Regions from separate parts of the Homo sapiens genome. Here region 2 is linked to region 1. The links come from fine-mapping of genetic effects on gene expression. Tissue or cell type: cerebellum. Region 1 holds a variant in brackets; the other region holds the start of a gene. All regions are shown on one strand. Distances are between the middles of the regions.

Region 1 (8,000 bases):
TTCTGTTTTCAGGATAATTGATTTCTGCTCTTATCTTTATTATTTTCTTCCTTTTTGCTTTTGGTTTATTTTGCTCTTCTTTTTCTAGGTTCTTCGAGTAGGAACTTAGATCTCAGTCTTTTCTTCTTTCCTGCAGTATGCATTCAGTGATATACATTTCCCTATCAGCACTCCTTTAGCTATGCTAACAAATTTTGATATGTTTTATTTTTAAATTTCATTTGGTACAATGTATTTAGAAGTGTGTTTTAGTTTCCAAGTGTTTGGAAATTTTCCTATTATCTTTCTGCTATTTATTTCTAGTTTGATTTTATTATGGCCAGAGAACACACTATTATTTTATTCTTTGAAATGTATTGAGGTTTGTTTTATGGCTTATGTATTAAGCATGTCTTTTTACTCTTCTGTTTTGATATCAGAATAATGTTCGTGGCCTTACTAACCTTGGGGAGACTGTCCCTCCCAGAGCCAGCTAATTCCTAGAGATGGCAAATAACTCCCTGTGAGTGCACCAATCATATGCAAACCAACCATTCCAAACCTAGACCCTAACCACCCCCTTCATCAGTCGCTCACAGAGATTTCACATTCTAGGCCACTGTCTACCTGCCCCAATCAGTCCAGGGCCAGATATCAGACCAATGGGGATAGCCCCTATGCCTCAGAGCCCCCTGAAAGTTTCACACTAGCCAATCCCAAGTCTGCTAAGCCTGTTTACTCTGCCTTGCCTTTCCCAGAGTAACCACATTAATGGCTCTTGCCCACATTTCCCCCTGACACCCTCTGCCTCCTGACTGACTCTGGTACTTTTCCATGTGGCTCTGCAAGGTGTGTTTGCCCCCTATTTCTAGAGCACTCTAAGTAAAAACCTCTTCCTTCATGACAGTCATTTCCATGCCTGCATTTCTTATCACACCTGATTAAAACAGGTGTGATATTTTTAAATAAAATGTGGCCTATCTTGGTACACATTTGTTGGACTAGAAAAGAATGTATATTTCAGTGTTGTTGGGTGAAGTGCTTGGCAAATCCCAACTAGAGCCTTTTGGTTGATGGTGTCATTGAGTTCTTTTATGTCCTTGCTGGTTTTCTGCCTAGTTTTTCTATCAGTTATTGAGAGAGGGTGTTCAAGTATTCATCTATATTTGTGGATATGTCTATTTCTCCTTTCAGTTTCATCAGTTTTTGCATCACTTATTTTTCAGCTTTGTTATTTGGTGCATACACATTCAGGATTGCTATGCCTTCTTAGTGAATTAACACTTTTAGCATTATATGACGTCTGTCTCTGGCTCATAATTTTCTTTGCTCTGAAGTTTACATGGTATACCTTTTTCCATCCTTTTGCTTTTGACCTGCCTATATCCTTAAATTTGAATTGAGTTTCTTATAGACAGCACATAGTTCAGTAATGTGTTTTAGTCCATTTTGTTAATCTGTCTTTTAATGGATGTATTTAGACCAATTATATTTAATGTAATTGTTGATGTTTTAAGGCTTAGATCTGCCATTTATTTTTTGTTTTCTGTTTGTTATGTCTGTTTTTTATTTCCGTTTTCTTTCCCTCGTCCCTTTCTGTAGTTTGCTTAAATGTTTTTTAGAGTTCTATTTTTATGTATCTATTATTTTTGTGTGTATCTTTCTGTAACATTTTTAGTGGTTGCCCTAGGTATTATATTGTATTTACACAACTTATCACAGCCTCCTAATGTTGTCACTTTACCAATTTGAGTGACATAGAGAAACCTTATTTCCCATTATGTCCCTTAACCCTCCTCCATTTATAATTGTCTTAGATATTTCCTCTACATATATTTAGAACCACATCAGTCAGTGTTGTAATTTTTCTTTCAACTGCTAAATATAATTTAGAAAACACAAGAGAAGAAGGAAAATCTATTGTATTTACCCATACTGTTGCTTAACATGTTCTTTCTGATGTTCTAAGATTCCTTCTTTTATCATTTCCTTTCTGAATATAGAACTTCTGTTGGCTATTCTTTTATGATTGGTCTCTTGGTGATAAATTTTTTGCTTTCTTTTATTTGAGAAAGTTTTTATTACCTCCTCACTCATGAAGGATATTTATGCCTGGAATAGAATTTTGAGTTGACCTGAAAAATATTGTGCCACAGCCTCCATGATTTCTTGCGGTGGTGCAATCTCAGCTCACTGCAACCTCCACCTCCTGGGCTCAAGCAATCTTCCCACCTCAGCCTTCTGAGTAGCTTGGATTACAGGTGCACACCACCACCACTGGCTAATTTTTTTTTTCTTTTTTTTTTGTATTTTTAGTAGAGCCCTGATTTCGCCTGTTGGCCAGGCTGATCTCAAACTCCTGGCCTCAAGCAATCTGCCTGCCTCAGCCTCCCAAAGTGCTGGGATTACAGGCATCAGCCACCACACCCAGCCTGGCCTCCATAATTTCTAAGGAGAAATTTGAATGGTTTTTCCCTATAGGCAATGTTTTTCTCTGGCTACTTTTAAGATTGTTCCTTTGTCTTCAGTTTTCCGAAATTTAATTATGATGTGTCTCGGCATGATTTCTTTGGGTTTATTTTGTTTAGGGTTCACTTCTTGAATTTGTGGATATAGATCTCTTACAAAATTTGGAAAGTTTTCAGCCATTATTTTTTCAAGTCCTTTTTTAGTCCTGCCCTCTTTCTCTTCAACTTCTGGGATTCTGATGGCTCAAATGTCAAGGCTTTTGTTGTAATAACTCAGGTACCCAGAATTCTGCTCATTTTTTTTTCAGTCTCTATTCTCTCTGTTGTTTAGATTGAGTAGTTTCTATTGTTTTGGTCCACTAATTCTTTCTATTTTTAGTTTTTGTATTTTTATTTTAGTTATTGTATTTTACGGTTCTAGAATTTCCATTTGGTTCTTCTCTATATCATCTATTTCTTCACTGACATTTTCTATTTCTGTTTCAAACATGTTTGTATTTGTTCATTGAAGCCTTTTTATCATGACTGCCTTAGACCTTTGTCAGATTATTCTAACATCCCTGCCATCTTCGTATTGTTTTGATTATTCAGGTTGAGGTCTTGGTTCTTGGTATGACAAGGGATTTTCAGTTGAAACCTGGACAGTCTGGCCAGGCGTGGTGGCTCACACCTGTAATCCCAGAACTTTGGGAGGCTGAGGCGGGTGGATTGCCTGAAGTCAGGAGTTTGAGACCAGCCTGGCCAACATGGTGAAACCCCATCTCTACTAAAAAAAATACAAAACATCAGTGGGTTGTGGTCATGGGCACCTGTAATCCCAGCGACTCGATAGGCTGAGGCAGGAGAATTGCTTGAACCCAGGAGGCGGAGGTTGCAGTGAGTCGAGATTGTACCACTGTACTCCAGCCTGGGCAACAACAGCAAAACTCTGCCTCAAAAAACAACAACAACAACAAAAACCTGGACACTCTGGGTGTTATGTCATAAGACTGGATCTCCTTTAAAATCTCTGTTTTAACTGGCTTTCTCTGTCACCCCTCCAGAAGGGAATGGGTGCCACCTCATGCTGTCAGGTGGAGGTAGAAGTCCAGCTTTTCCATTTGACCTCCATTGACACCCAAGGTGAGGAGAGGCTCCTTGTGGGGCAGGGTTGGCAGTTCCAGCTCTCAGTGTAATCTCCACCAACACCATGGTGGGGGTGGCCTCATTTCTAGTAGGCACTGATGAAAGTCCTGACTCTCCACTAGACCTTCTTTGACACCACCTGGGGGAGGGGCAGTGGTGCCTCATTACTGCTAGGTGGGATGGGGTCCAGATTCCCAATATGGCCGCCACTAACATCATGTGGCAGGAGGGTCTTGTTACCTGCTGGGACAAAAGTCCAAGCTCCCTACTTTGCTTTTTCTGACACTGTCCCAGTGGGGATGTTGGGGCACCCTATTACAGCCTTGCTAGGGCAGAAGCCTGAGCAACCTGTTTGGCCTTTGCTGGCATGGGTGAGTGGTAGCAGGGACACAGTTTTTTCTGCGATATTTGGCTGAAGTAGACTGGTTATTGTCTAAAAAAAATTTTTTTTTTTTTGAGATTCAGTCTTGCTCTGTCGCCAGGCTGGAGTGCAATGGCAC[G/A]ATCTTGGCTCACTGCAACCTCTGCCTCCTGGGTTCCAGCAATTCTCCTGTCTCAGCCTCCTGAAAAGCTGGGACTACAGGCGTGTGCCACCACGCCTGGCTAATTTTTTGTATTTTAGTAGAGACGGGGTTTCACCGTGTTGGCCAGGATGGTCTTGATCTCCTGACCTAGTGATCCGCCCGCCTCGGCCTCCCAAAGTGCTGGGATTACAGGCGTGAGCCAGCGCGCCCGGCCTAAAATTTTTATGTCTTGCTAGGCTTCCCCTTTACTGACCCTTAGACTGGAGACAGAAGGCTTTTCCTGGCTTGTCTTTGAGTTTGTTTTGTTTTTGTTGACACCCATCTGTGTTTTGGGCCACTGTCTTCCCAACCCCTCCAACCACAGTCCAGCCTTAGTTTTCCAGTTAATCTCTCAGTCTGTGAGAGAGTGATGGGGAGTCTCCATGCTCTCCATTTTCAACCTTCCCGAGGGCACTTGCTGTTTCTCAAGGGTCATTTTCTTATCCCCACCTCTGGGCATTACACAAGCTCTCTTCTACCCGGAATGGCCTGCCTGCCTGTCCCTTCCTCCACCCTGTCCTTCTAGACCAGCTCAAAGTCTTCTTCTTGAGGATTCTCCTGCCTCCCTCCAGGCAGCATCATCTCTCCCGACCCTCCTCCCCAGGGTGCTCTGAGAGTGTTTCTGCTTTGCTAAGTTCTCTCTGCTTCTCTACTAGGGCAGGGGCTCCTGAACAGAGAAGAGCTGATCTCATTCCCTTTGCTCCTGCCTCAACATGATTCTTCACATACTGAGTACCAATAAGTGGATGTTGAACTAATCAGCATCTGAAATACCAATCCTTTTTCTCCTGACTTTGTGGCATGGCTGTTGGGAGGGGAAGAAGGCTCATTGGCTTCCTTACTGTGAGGGACCTGCCAGTAGTTTTCTGAAGCCCTGTGAATAACCTCCCTATGCGCCAGAACTGCTGTTGCCATGGTTTCTCCCACCCATGAGGAGTACTTAGGTGAATGCTGATGGAAGAACAGAGCAGGCTGGCCAAGGCCTTTTCAGGCCATTTTAATAGGGAAAAAGTTGGTGAAGTAACAGAAGGCCTTGAAACCATTCAGATGGCAGAGTGCAGTGGGAAAATCTCACCAAGATGAGGAATTAAATTAACTGTGAAACTACAGCCAAGAATCTCTTTAAAGATAATATTACAGACAGCAGAGACTCTATCATTAATCAGCCTCAGAAATGTGAAGGTGCTTGTCAACCTAAATTATTTCTAGGTATAATTGATTTCTAGCTTTTTCCTAACCAAACTTTTAAGTTTATAGATTCAGGATTAATGTGGTATTTTAAATTGTGGTTAGCAGTAAGCTGTAAATAATTATTTCTTTGTATACCATTTACTTTTATTCATCTCTTATTAACTTAGACATTAGTTCTCTATTTGAAATATATTAATACAACATGAAACAGTCTCTTCCCAATGGTAGCCAGTATCTATTCAACTCTTCAATGTTCACTGAAGAGAAGGCATAAATCCAGAGGGGAATTGACTGTTTCTGGCTGAACTTCAGCTCAAAGAGAGACCTGTGAGTGGTCTTCTAGATTCTGCTCATGAAGGGGTATGCCTGGCACTTGTCAAAAATTACTATTTAAGTTCAGAATTAATATCAGAGAGAGACTCTTGGCTGAAAGTGTGACACAGGCTCTAACCTCCTTAAAAGAGGTGTGGGATTTGAAATTTAACACTGTGTGTTTCCTCCCCATACACCACATTTCTACGTGCTGAAGACAGACACCCTTCAGTTGGAGCTAATGTCAATGGGCTCAAGATCTTAAGTTTCCCCAGAAGTATGTTCGTCAAAATAGGGCTGTCCTAATCAGTTCAGGCCGCTATAAGAGAATACCATAGACTGGGTGGCTTATAAACCACAGAAATTTATTTTTCACCATTCTGGAGGCTGAAAGTCCAAAATCAGACATCACCAGATTTGATGTCTGGTGAGGACTGCCTCCTAGTTCACAGACACGGCCTTCTCACCGTGCCCTCCTGTGGCTGAAGGGGCAAGGGGGCTCTCTGGGATCTCTTTCATAAGGGCACTAATTCTATTCCCCTTCACCTCCGCAAGACCCCACCTCCTAATTGGGGGTTAGGATTTCAACACAGGAATTTCAGGGAGGATACAAACATTCAATCCATAACAAGTGCTAAGTCCAGCTATAAGATCATAAGAACCAAATAAGTACAGACTATAGCCCATGGCTTCCCAAATTTACTGGATCAGAACTTCTGGTCCCACAACCCAGAAATCTGTATTTTTATTTTTTATTTTTTATTTTTTTTAGACGGAGTCTCGCTCTGTCACCCAGGCTGGAGTGCAGTGGGACAATCTTGGCTCACTGCAAGCTCTGCCTCCCGGGTTCACACCATTCTCCTGCCTCAGCCTCCCAAGCAGCTGGGACTACAGGCGCCCGCCACCACACCCGGCTAATTTTTTGTATTTTTAGCAGAGACGGGATTTCACCGCATTAGCCAGGATGGTCTCGATCTCCTGACCTCGTTATCCACCCGCCTCGGCCTCCCAAAGTGCTGGGATTACAGGCGTGAGCCACCACGCCTGGCCAGAAATCTGTATTTTTAATAAACTTAGGAGTTGATTTATTTTTTATTTTTATTTATTTTATTTTTATTTTTATTTATTTATTTTATTTTATTTTATTTTTTGAGACAGAGTTTCACTCTTGCTCCCCAGGCTGGAGTGCAATGGCACAACCTTGGCTCATCACAACTTCCACCTCCTGGGTTCAAGCGATTCTCCTGCCTCAGCCTCCAGAGTACCTGGGATTACAGGCGCCCAACACCACGCCCGGCTAATTTTTTATATTTTTAGTAGAGACGGGGTTTCACCATCTTGGCCAGGCTGGTCTCGAACTCCTGACCTCTGGTGATCCACCTGCCTTGGATTCCCAAAGTGCTGGGATTACAGACGTGAGCCACCACGCCCAGCCAGGGGTTGATTTTTAATCAACCAGGCTTAGTCCAGGTTGCAAGGAGCAGCAAAATGGTCCCATTTCAGTGTGCCTAAGAATTACCCGGTGGGGTTGCTTAAAATGTCCATCCCAGCACCCACCTTCAGAAGGTCGAATTCAGTCAGCCCGGGATGGGCTCCAGAATCTGCATTTTGATAAGTCCCTCAGGTCATCCTCATCTCATGCTGGTCTTCAGAAACGCTCCCAGACACATGCCATTTCGAGCGGCCCGTAGAAATAGCTGTGCCTCTCTGAAACAGTTCCACTCTGGACCTGCGGCTGTGAAATGTGGGCTGCATTCAGTCATTGGTGTGTAATCACTATAGACAGACCCTTTTCAGCCCTATGGACTGAAAACATGAGTTTGTTTTTCAGCAACCTGTTCCACGCGGGGATGGGGTTGGAGGGGTCAGGCAGTCCCCGCCCTGGGAGGGCCACCGTGTCACCAGCTGCTGCCCTCCCTGCCTGCCCTGCGCATCTCCCCAGCGAGGACTTCTCCAGCCTCCATCTCTAGGCATTGGATGGGCCCTTAGATATCCAGCCGTAAGAGATCGAAAGAACGATAAGTCGTTCTTTCTTTTTTTTTTGGAACAAAGATTTTCTAGGAAATTTAATCTTTTTTTTTCTTTTTTCTTTTTTTTATTATTATTATACTTTAAGTTTTAGGGTACATGTGCACAATGTGCAGGTTTGTTACATATGTATACATGTGCCATGCTGGTGTGCTGCACCCATTAACTCGTCATTTAGCATTAGGTATATCTCCTAATGCTATTCCTCCCCCCTCCCCGCACCCCACAACAGTCCTCAGAGTGTGATGTTCCCCTTCCTATGTCCATGTGTTCTCATTGTTCAATTCCCATCTATGAGTGAGAACATGCGGTGTTTGGCTTTTTTGTCCTTGTGATA
Region 2 (8,000 bases), 21 kb before region 1:
CTGGCACAGCACCCCACAGTTTGACCCACCATTCTGGAAGGTATAAGCTGCAAACCTTGGTGGCATGCATGTAGTGCTGACTCTGCAGACATGCAGAATGTACAAGCTGTGGGGCCATGGTGGCCTCCACCTAGATTTCAAAGGATGACTTGGACCGGCTAGGGGCTCAGGCAGACACTTGTCACAGAGGTGAGGCATGGGAGCCGGGGAGCCCCGATCCCCCAGAACTGTAGGGTCACTAGTGTGCAACTCCAACCTGGGAAAGCTGCAGGCATGAGACTCCAACCTCTGAGAGCTGCTGGGTGGACTGATCCCAGCAAAGCCATAGGGGAGGGGCTGCCTGAGGTCTTGAGGGGTCCAAGCCCCACTCCAGTGTGCCCAGATCGCAGGACAGGGAGTCAGAGGAGATTATTCACCAGTTTTAAGACTTAATGTTTTTTTTCCATTGATATAGTTTGGGTATTTGTCCCCTCCAAATCTCATGTTGAAGTGTAATCTCCAATGTTGGAGGCGAGGCCTAGTGGGAGGTGTTTGAATCATGGGGGTGGATCCCTAATGAATGGCTTAGTGCCATCCCCTTGGTGACCAATGAGTTCACTTGCGATCTGGTTATTTAAAAGTATAGGGCACCTCCCTGCTTTTTCTCTTGCTCGCACTCTCACCATGTGAGACATTTGCTCTCCCTTGTCCTTCCAACGTGATTGGAAACTTGCTGAGGCCCTCACCAGAAGCAGATGCTAGCACCATGTTTCTTGCACTGTCTGCAGAACCATGAGTGAATTAAATTTCTTTTCTTTTCTTTTTTTGAGACCGGTCTCACTGTGTTGCTCAGGCTGGAGCACAGTGGCAAGATCATAGCTCACTGCAGCCTCCATCACCCAGGCTCAAGTGATCCTCCTGCCTCAGCCTCCTGAGTAACAGGGACTACAGGCACACACCATCACACCCAGCTAATTTTTTTTTTTTTTTTTTTTTTTAGTAGAGATGAGGTCTCACTATATTGCCCAGGATGGTCTTAAACTCCTGAGCTCAAGCAATCCTCCTGCCTCAGCCTCCCAAAGTGCTGGGATTACAGGCGTGAGCCACCACACCGGCCTGTCTTTTCTTTATAAATTACCCAGCCTCGGGTATTTATTTGTGGCAATGCAAAAACAGCCTAACACATGCATGTTGGGTTCTAGATGTAGCTGGAACCAGTTACCCCTTTCTTCCTGCCTCTCTCTCCCTTTTGGAATGAAAATATCTCTCCTATGCCTGCCCCACCATTGTCTTTTGGGAGTAGATAGCCTGTTTTGATTTCACAGGTTCACAGCTGGAAAGGAGTCTGCCTCAGGCCAGCTATGCCTGCCTTGGAGTCTTAGCTTTATCTGATTTAGATGGGACTCTGGATTTGAACTTTTCAGTTGGTGCTGGAAGAGTTAAGCCTTTGGGGACTATTGGGATGGAATGAATGTATTTCACATGTGAGAAAGGCATGAATTTGGGGGGCTAAGACAGAATGCTATGGTTTGAATGTGTCCCCTAAAGTCCATGTGTTGGAAACTTAATCCCCAATGAAACAGTGTTGAAAGATGGGAGGGACTTTTAAGAGGTGAGGAGGTATGATGGCTTTGCCCTCATGAATGGATTAATGCTGTGATCTCTAGAGTGGGTTAGTTATCTTGAGAGTGGGTTCCTGAAAAAACAATGAGTTTGAACCCCTTCCTCTCTCTCCACCCCCACCTCTCTCTCTTTTCTTTCCCTATCTTCTCATTCTTTTGCCCCTCCACCTCTGCCATGGGAAGACACAGCAAGAAAACCCTCGCCAGATGCGAGCATCTTGATATCAGACTTCCCAGCCTCTAGAATTCTGAAAAATAAATTTCTTTTCTTTATCAGTTACCCAGTCTATGGTATTCTGTTATAGCAACACAAATGGACTAAGACAACTAATTTTCAGTTTTCAAATGCGCATCCCATCAAGTCCTTAAGTTTTATACAGTCCACATTTAATTTCTGCTGCAACAAGACTGTCTGATGAGTAGCAAAAACTGAAGGACAGTGTTCAATGTTAAGGCCATGCAGACTAATATAGATAACCTGAACAGAAAAAGAGATATTTTACACAGTGATGAGATGGTTTCATTTTTGCACACATGAGCAAATGCAACACATTCTCTGTGACAACTTTGGTTTGAAAGTTCTATCCTGCACCAGTCCTAGAACAATTTCCACTGGTCCAGGATGTCAATGCTCAGACACAGTACTGCATGGAATCAGGTGCAGGATTGAGAACAGGGCATGCTTTAGAAAAAGCAAAAGCTATTTCCAGGACTATCTGCTATGCTGGTTCAGCTTTGCCAAGCAATATTCAAATACTCATGGAGCAGCACATACTATGAGCAAAGTACTTAGTATTGTAGAAATGCAAAAGAAGAAGAAGAGGAAGAAAAGCTTAAACTGTTTATAATCCCCAAAGAAGTTTACAATCTGCTTAGAAAAATTATTTTACTATGCAAACAGCTGAGCCTGGCTGAAGCATCTGTTTGGGAGAGGAATGGAGAGAAGACTGGGAAGTCCACAGTTAGATTGTGTGGGGCAGGACAGAGCACCCAAGATTTACCGCATAGGGCACATCTGGGCAGTGTGAGGATGTCTAACAAAAAAGCCTAGAGATGCTCGGCGCGGTGGCTCACGCCTGTAATCCCAGCACTTTGGGAGGCTGAGGCAGGTGGATCACCTGAGGTCAGGAGCTCCAGACCAGCCTGGCCAACATGGTGAAACCCAGCTCTACTAAAAATACAAAACCTAGCCAGGCATGGTGGTGCGGGCCTGTAATCCCAGCGACTCGGGAAGCTGAGGCAGGAGAATCACTTGAACCCGGGAGGCAGAGGTTGCAATGAGCTGAGATCACACCACCACACTCCAGCCTGGGCAACAGAGCCAGACTTAGTCAAAATAAATAAATAAATAAATAAATAAATAAATAAATAAATAAATTTAAAAAGCCTAGAGATTTCTGTGTCTCTCCACTCTCCAAGTTCAAGGCCATTTCAGGGGCCTCCCCAAAGTTTTTAAAACTTGACTTGGGCAAATTCTTTAAGAACCTTGTTCTCCTCAAATAAAATATTTTGGAAAGCGGATTTTTATGAAGTCTTGGCTCAAATTCCATGACCTTTAACAGACATCTTAATTGTTTCGTGGGAGAATATGACCCAACAAGTGGCATATGGTTTAGGTGGGGACGTTTAATTACCGAACAGTTTTGTAGAATAAGCAAGTCACACATCTTTTGTCCGATGCGTGACAGGTTTGAACCTGTAAAGCCAGGTGCCTAAATAGCTTCCAACGTTTCCACCCCACCAGCCCTTGCACCACTCCCTGTACTGGCCCTGAGCTTTCTAGTCTTGACTGAAAAGCGGGGAGGCAATGTGGTCTCTCCTGGTGCACTGTCCCGAGGAAGGCCTGCTCCGCTTCCCCGGAGGAGTCTTCAAAGGATGGAGGTAATTAATAAAAACAACCCCTGTACCTCCTCTAAGTGGTCATTAATTAATAAAGAACCTCCAGGCTCCTATAGGAGAGGTCTGTGCACCCCGCGGGCTATGAGAAGGCTGGATCACCCAGAAAGACTGAGGATGTGTCCTGGCAAAAACACAGCCTGCCCCTCACACTGCTCCCCACGGGTGCACTAGGGAGGAAGAGTTCCCTCGAGGGCCTGAGCAGGCGCCCCACACCTGCACCCGTGCAGAGGGGGCTGGGCCCGCCCTCTGCGCTCCCGAGGGAGAGCCCTACCCCCTGCATCCCCGGTACCCCGTTCCCTCCAAGGGCCGGAAAGAGGGCCCCGCGCACTGTGCACTTCTTAGGGGTCCCCCACCCTGCGCCCCCGCCACGGGAAAAAGGTCCCCGCTCTGCGCATCCGGCCCCGGAGGGACAGCCCCGGTCCTGCACTCCTTGCTCCTCAGGGGGACGGTCCGCGCCCAGCGGCTAGTGCGCCCCGGGTAGGTGGGGGCGGGGGGCTCGTCGAGTGACAGCGCTCGCCTCCCGCAGCCCGCCCGAGCCGCGTCAGGGCAGAGGCGGGGTGGGGCGCGGTTAAAAGGCGCAGCAGGTGGGAGCCGGGGCCTTCACCCGAAACCCGACGAGAGCCCGACAGCCGGCGGCGCCCGAGCCCGACCTGCCTGCCCAGCCGGAGCGAAGGGCGCCGCCCCGCGCAGAGCCCGCGCCAGGGCCGCCGGCCGCAGAGCAGGTAAGCGGGCGCGGACCGGCTGGGTCTTGCGGGGGGCGAGCGGGCGGTGCCACCTCGGCCCCCCAGCGGAGGAATTTCCTCCAAGAAAACAAAACAGGTGAGGTCGGCGGCTGGTCCCCACCTCGCCCCTGTCGCTCCTGTCTGGCACCGGATCAGAGCCGGCAGAGCGCGGCCGGGATGGGTGTCTGGCCGCACGTGGGGCGACCGGGCCCCCGATCTGCCTCTATCCGCACCCTCCTGTCCACGCGCCCCGGCCCCGGCCCGATGGCAGTGGGCGCCGCCCGCGCTGGACCCTCTCTCTGTACGCAGAGGAACGAGGATGGACTGGTTTGACTTTTACCCCAGCGTGGTCCCCTTTGACTTGTACAACAGGTTTTATGAAGGTTTCATATCGTGTGTCTAAGAGGCCAGAGTGAGGGCCGGTGCCCCTTTCCCCCGTTTCATTTGCTGCGTGTTGGATTTTCTAAGCTTTTGTGGGTCACCGGGGTGTCCCCTTGGATTTGGGGAGAAGAAAGCCAGGTCTAGGATGCGGGTTTCAGTTCAGACAAACCCTCAACTTGGGCCGATGCATAAGTCCCCGGAGAACCGCAGGGTATGGGCTGCGTGATGGGCTTCCGAGAAACTTGTGAAATGCTGATGACAATAGCGTGGACGACAGTAATTAAAAGTAATTGGCGACACATCTTAGTTAAAACGTGCAGGCACCAGAAGGCACTTCCTGTCGGTGAAGAAGACCTGTCTCCGGTGTCACGGGCATCCTGTGTTTTGCAAACGGGGCTGACCTCCCTTCCTGGGGAGCAGGAAGGGTCAGGGTGAGTGTGGCCTGCCCGCAGCTCTGCACTCCCGGAGGGGTTAGGGACCTGCAACCAGGCGGGGACACTGGCCCAGCGACCTCAGTGTCCCCTGGGTGGGCGTGCACTCTGTTTAGTGTCTGATTGAACGTAACCGTGCCGGGTTGTTCTTTTCCCTCAAGTAGACTTTATGCCATACAGCTATTTTCTTGCCCCAGTTCTAGCAGAATCTAACCAGTGTTCTAGAAGAAAATGTCCTGCCCCCATGCAGTCTCCTTAGAATTGCAGGGTGCTGCTCAGAACTGCTCCTGTGGAGAGCTTTGTCTGTTGTTTGGATCCAGCAGCGTCTTTGGGGGTGTTGCTTGAAGCTTGCCAAGGAGGAGAGGGGGGTTCTGAAGAGAGAACACCAGGGCTCTAGCCTGTCACATAACTGGGGGTGTGGAGAGCGCCTCATTGCCACTGCAGTGACTAAAGCTGGGAAGACGCTGGTCAGTTCACCTGCCCCACTGGTTGTTTTTTAAACAAATTCTGATACAGGTAATGATGACTTTATGCTTTTTTTCTTATGTCTTCTCTTCTGAATTCTGAGTGTTAGGAAGGAAAAGAAGTACAGAAGATCTGGCTAAACAATTTCTGTATGGCGAAAGAAAAATTCTAACTTGTACGCCCTCTTCATGCATCTTTAATTCAATTTGAATATTCCAGGTGCTGTGAGCAGTTTGCATATATTAGTTTAAATGTTAAATGGGATAAAATTGTGGGAAAGTGATTTCTGACCCAAGCTTCTTGGTCTGTGAGGGCATAACCTTCTAATGGCCACCTGCCATAGGTTATGATTTCTGTTTTAGTTGCTTAGTGCATGAGCATAGACCTGGAACCCCAGAGGGCCTGCTCCATTTTTATTCCCAGGGTCATTTAAATCTAGTTGAGCTTAAATGTTTGGAAAGGACACAGGTTTGCTTGAATGAACAAACATATATTGCTAACAAGACCCAGAGAAGGAAAGTTTAACTTAATGGAAATTAATTTTTAACTCTTTGAATTCTTAAATGATGTAAGAAACATACGTAATTGCATGAGTTTTCCATTTTTACATCTAGACTCCACAGACAGAAACGTTTCATTTTTATTGAGTTAATTTTGAAATATATGAATCCCTGACCCATTGTTATCACTAGCTGTTACTCTATCAGGACAGTTGCTGAAGTTTTTTGTCACTAAATTTAAAAATCAACTATCAGGTTGTCCCTTGGATGACCTGAGATTTCTAGAGACAAAAGAAATCTATTCTTCCTGATTGAAGAAAGAGTCTGAGATTTTTTTTAAACCACTGATTTGGGGATCAGGGTGTAGCCAGTGTCTCAAACTCTCCCCTGTCCCTTTTTGTTTTGCTCAAGGAGTGGGCTTGAGGCCTCAGATTGGGTGTTACTGTTATTTTGATAGGGAAAGGATCCTACTAAAGAGCACCTTTGATTATTTTGTGTGTTCAAAGCATAGAGCATCAGGAAGCTGGCAATTTCTGAACTTACCTCATAACAGTTCTGGGAATGAAGAAAAACTACCCACAAAGTTTATTCAGGGGACATATTGCGGGGGGCGGGGGGGGGGGGAGTTAAAGGAATATGGCAACAGCTACTATTTTTCCCTCAACAGGCGACATCCTCACTGACCGAGCAAAGATTGACATTCGTATCATCACTGTGCACCATTGGCTTCTAGGCACTCCAGTGGGGTAGGAGAAGGAGGTCTGAAACCCTCGCAGAGGGATCTTGCCCTCATTCTTTGGGTCTGAAACACTGGCAGTCGTTGGAAACAGGACTCAGGTTTGCTTGTTTTGCTTTGATATTGTTTTCCTTTTATCTATGCAGACTCCCCGACTATCCAAAGCTAACTTCGAAATTGGGAGGCACATGTTCCTGTTCTCAGATCTATCAACTACTCCCTAGATGGCCAGGCGCGATGGCTCATGCCTGTAATCCCAACACTTTGGGAGGCCGAGGCTGAGGTCAGGAGTTCAAGACCAGCCTGACCAAGGTGGCAAAACCCTGTCACTACTAAAAAAAAAAAAAAAAAAAAAAAAAAAAAAATTAACCAGGTATGGTGGCATATGCCTGTAGTCCCAGCTATTCAGGAGGCTGAAGCACAAGAATCACTAGAACCGGGGAGGCAGATGTTGCAGTGAGCTGAGATTGCACCATTGCACTCCACCCTGGGCAACAGGGCAAGACTCTGTCTAAAAAAAAAAAAAAAAATTTTTTTTTTTTTTTTTTTTTTTTTTTGCTAAATGACATTGAAAGGGGAACAGAGCTATCTAGAAAAATATGCTGAGGGGTTACACTCTAACTTTGGGGGCTTTAGTTTTGGTTCTGTCATTAGTGAAATTATAATGGCATAGATAAATAAGCTAGTTGTGATTAATTTCCTAAGAAGTTTTAAAACAATCAAGAAATTTCATTAGTGCAGTCAAATGCCAATAGATCTAAATTATTTGAATTGTAAAAGGAAAGAACAACCTATCTTCACAATGCTGTGTGGATCCTCAAAAGTAAAGTCCATGGTTTACTTATTTTTAGAGCTAGATATTTCAGACTGGAGCTTTAGTATCAAGAATATAGCATGGGCCGGGCGCGGTGGCTCATGCTTGTAATCCCAGCACTTTGGGAGGCCAAGGGGGGCGGATCATGAGGTCAGGAGATCGAGACCATCCTGGCTAACACGGTGAAACCCCGTCTCTACTAAAAATACAAAAAATTAGCCGGGCTTGGTGGCAGGCGCCTGTAGTCCCAGCTGCTCAGAGAGGCTGAGGCGGGAGAACGGCGTGAACCCGGGAGGCGGAGCTTGCAGTGAGCCGAGATCGTGCCACGGTACTCCAGCTTGGGCAACAGAGCTAGACTCCATCTCAAAAAAAACAAAAAACAAAAACAAAAAACAAAAACAAACAAACAAGAAAAAACAGCATCGAGTTCTTCACTATGATTACATTTACT

Direction of the effects. Positions count from the first base shown, and alleles are read on the strand shown. Sizes are in standard deviations (SD) of each study's normalised expression.
With allele A in place of G in region 1, the expression in cerebellum of the gene that starts at base 4,097 in region 2 is higher (large effect, 0.85 SD a copy in GTEx).

The links. PIP is the estimated chance that this variant, and not a neighbour inherited with it, causes the effect.
Region 2: it holds the start of GJB6, and the variant in region 1 is fine-mapped to the expression of GJB6 in cerebellum (GTEx, PIP 0.97).

The regions. Positions count from the first base shown.
Region 1 is chr13:20,207,183-20,215,182 of GRCh38, reverse strand. No RefSeq gene overlaps it. Among named protein-coding and RNA genes, the nearest start is that of GJB2, 18 kb to the right of the region's middle. The variant G/A (reference allele first, on the strand shown) is at 4,073.
Region 2 is chr13:20,228,416-20,236,415 of GRCh38, reverse strand. GJB6 (gap junction protein beta 6) reads left to right here and starts at 4,097. Exons shown (of 5, transcript NM_001110219.3): 1 at 4,097-4,222; 2 at 4,911-5,034; 3 at 5,609-5,718; 4 at 6,667-6,836.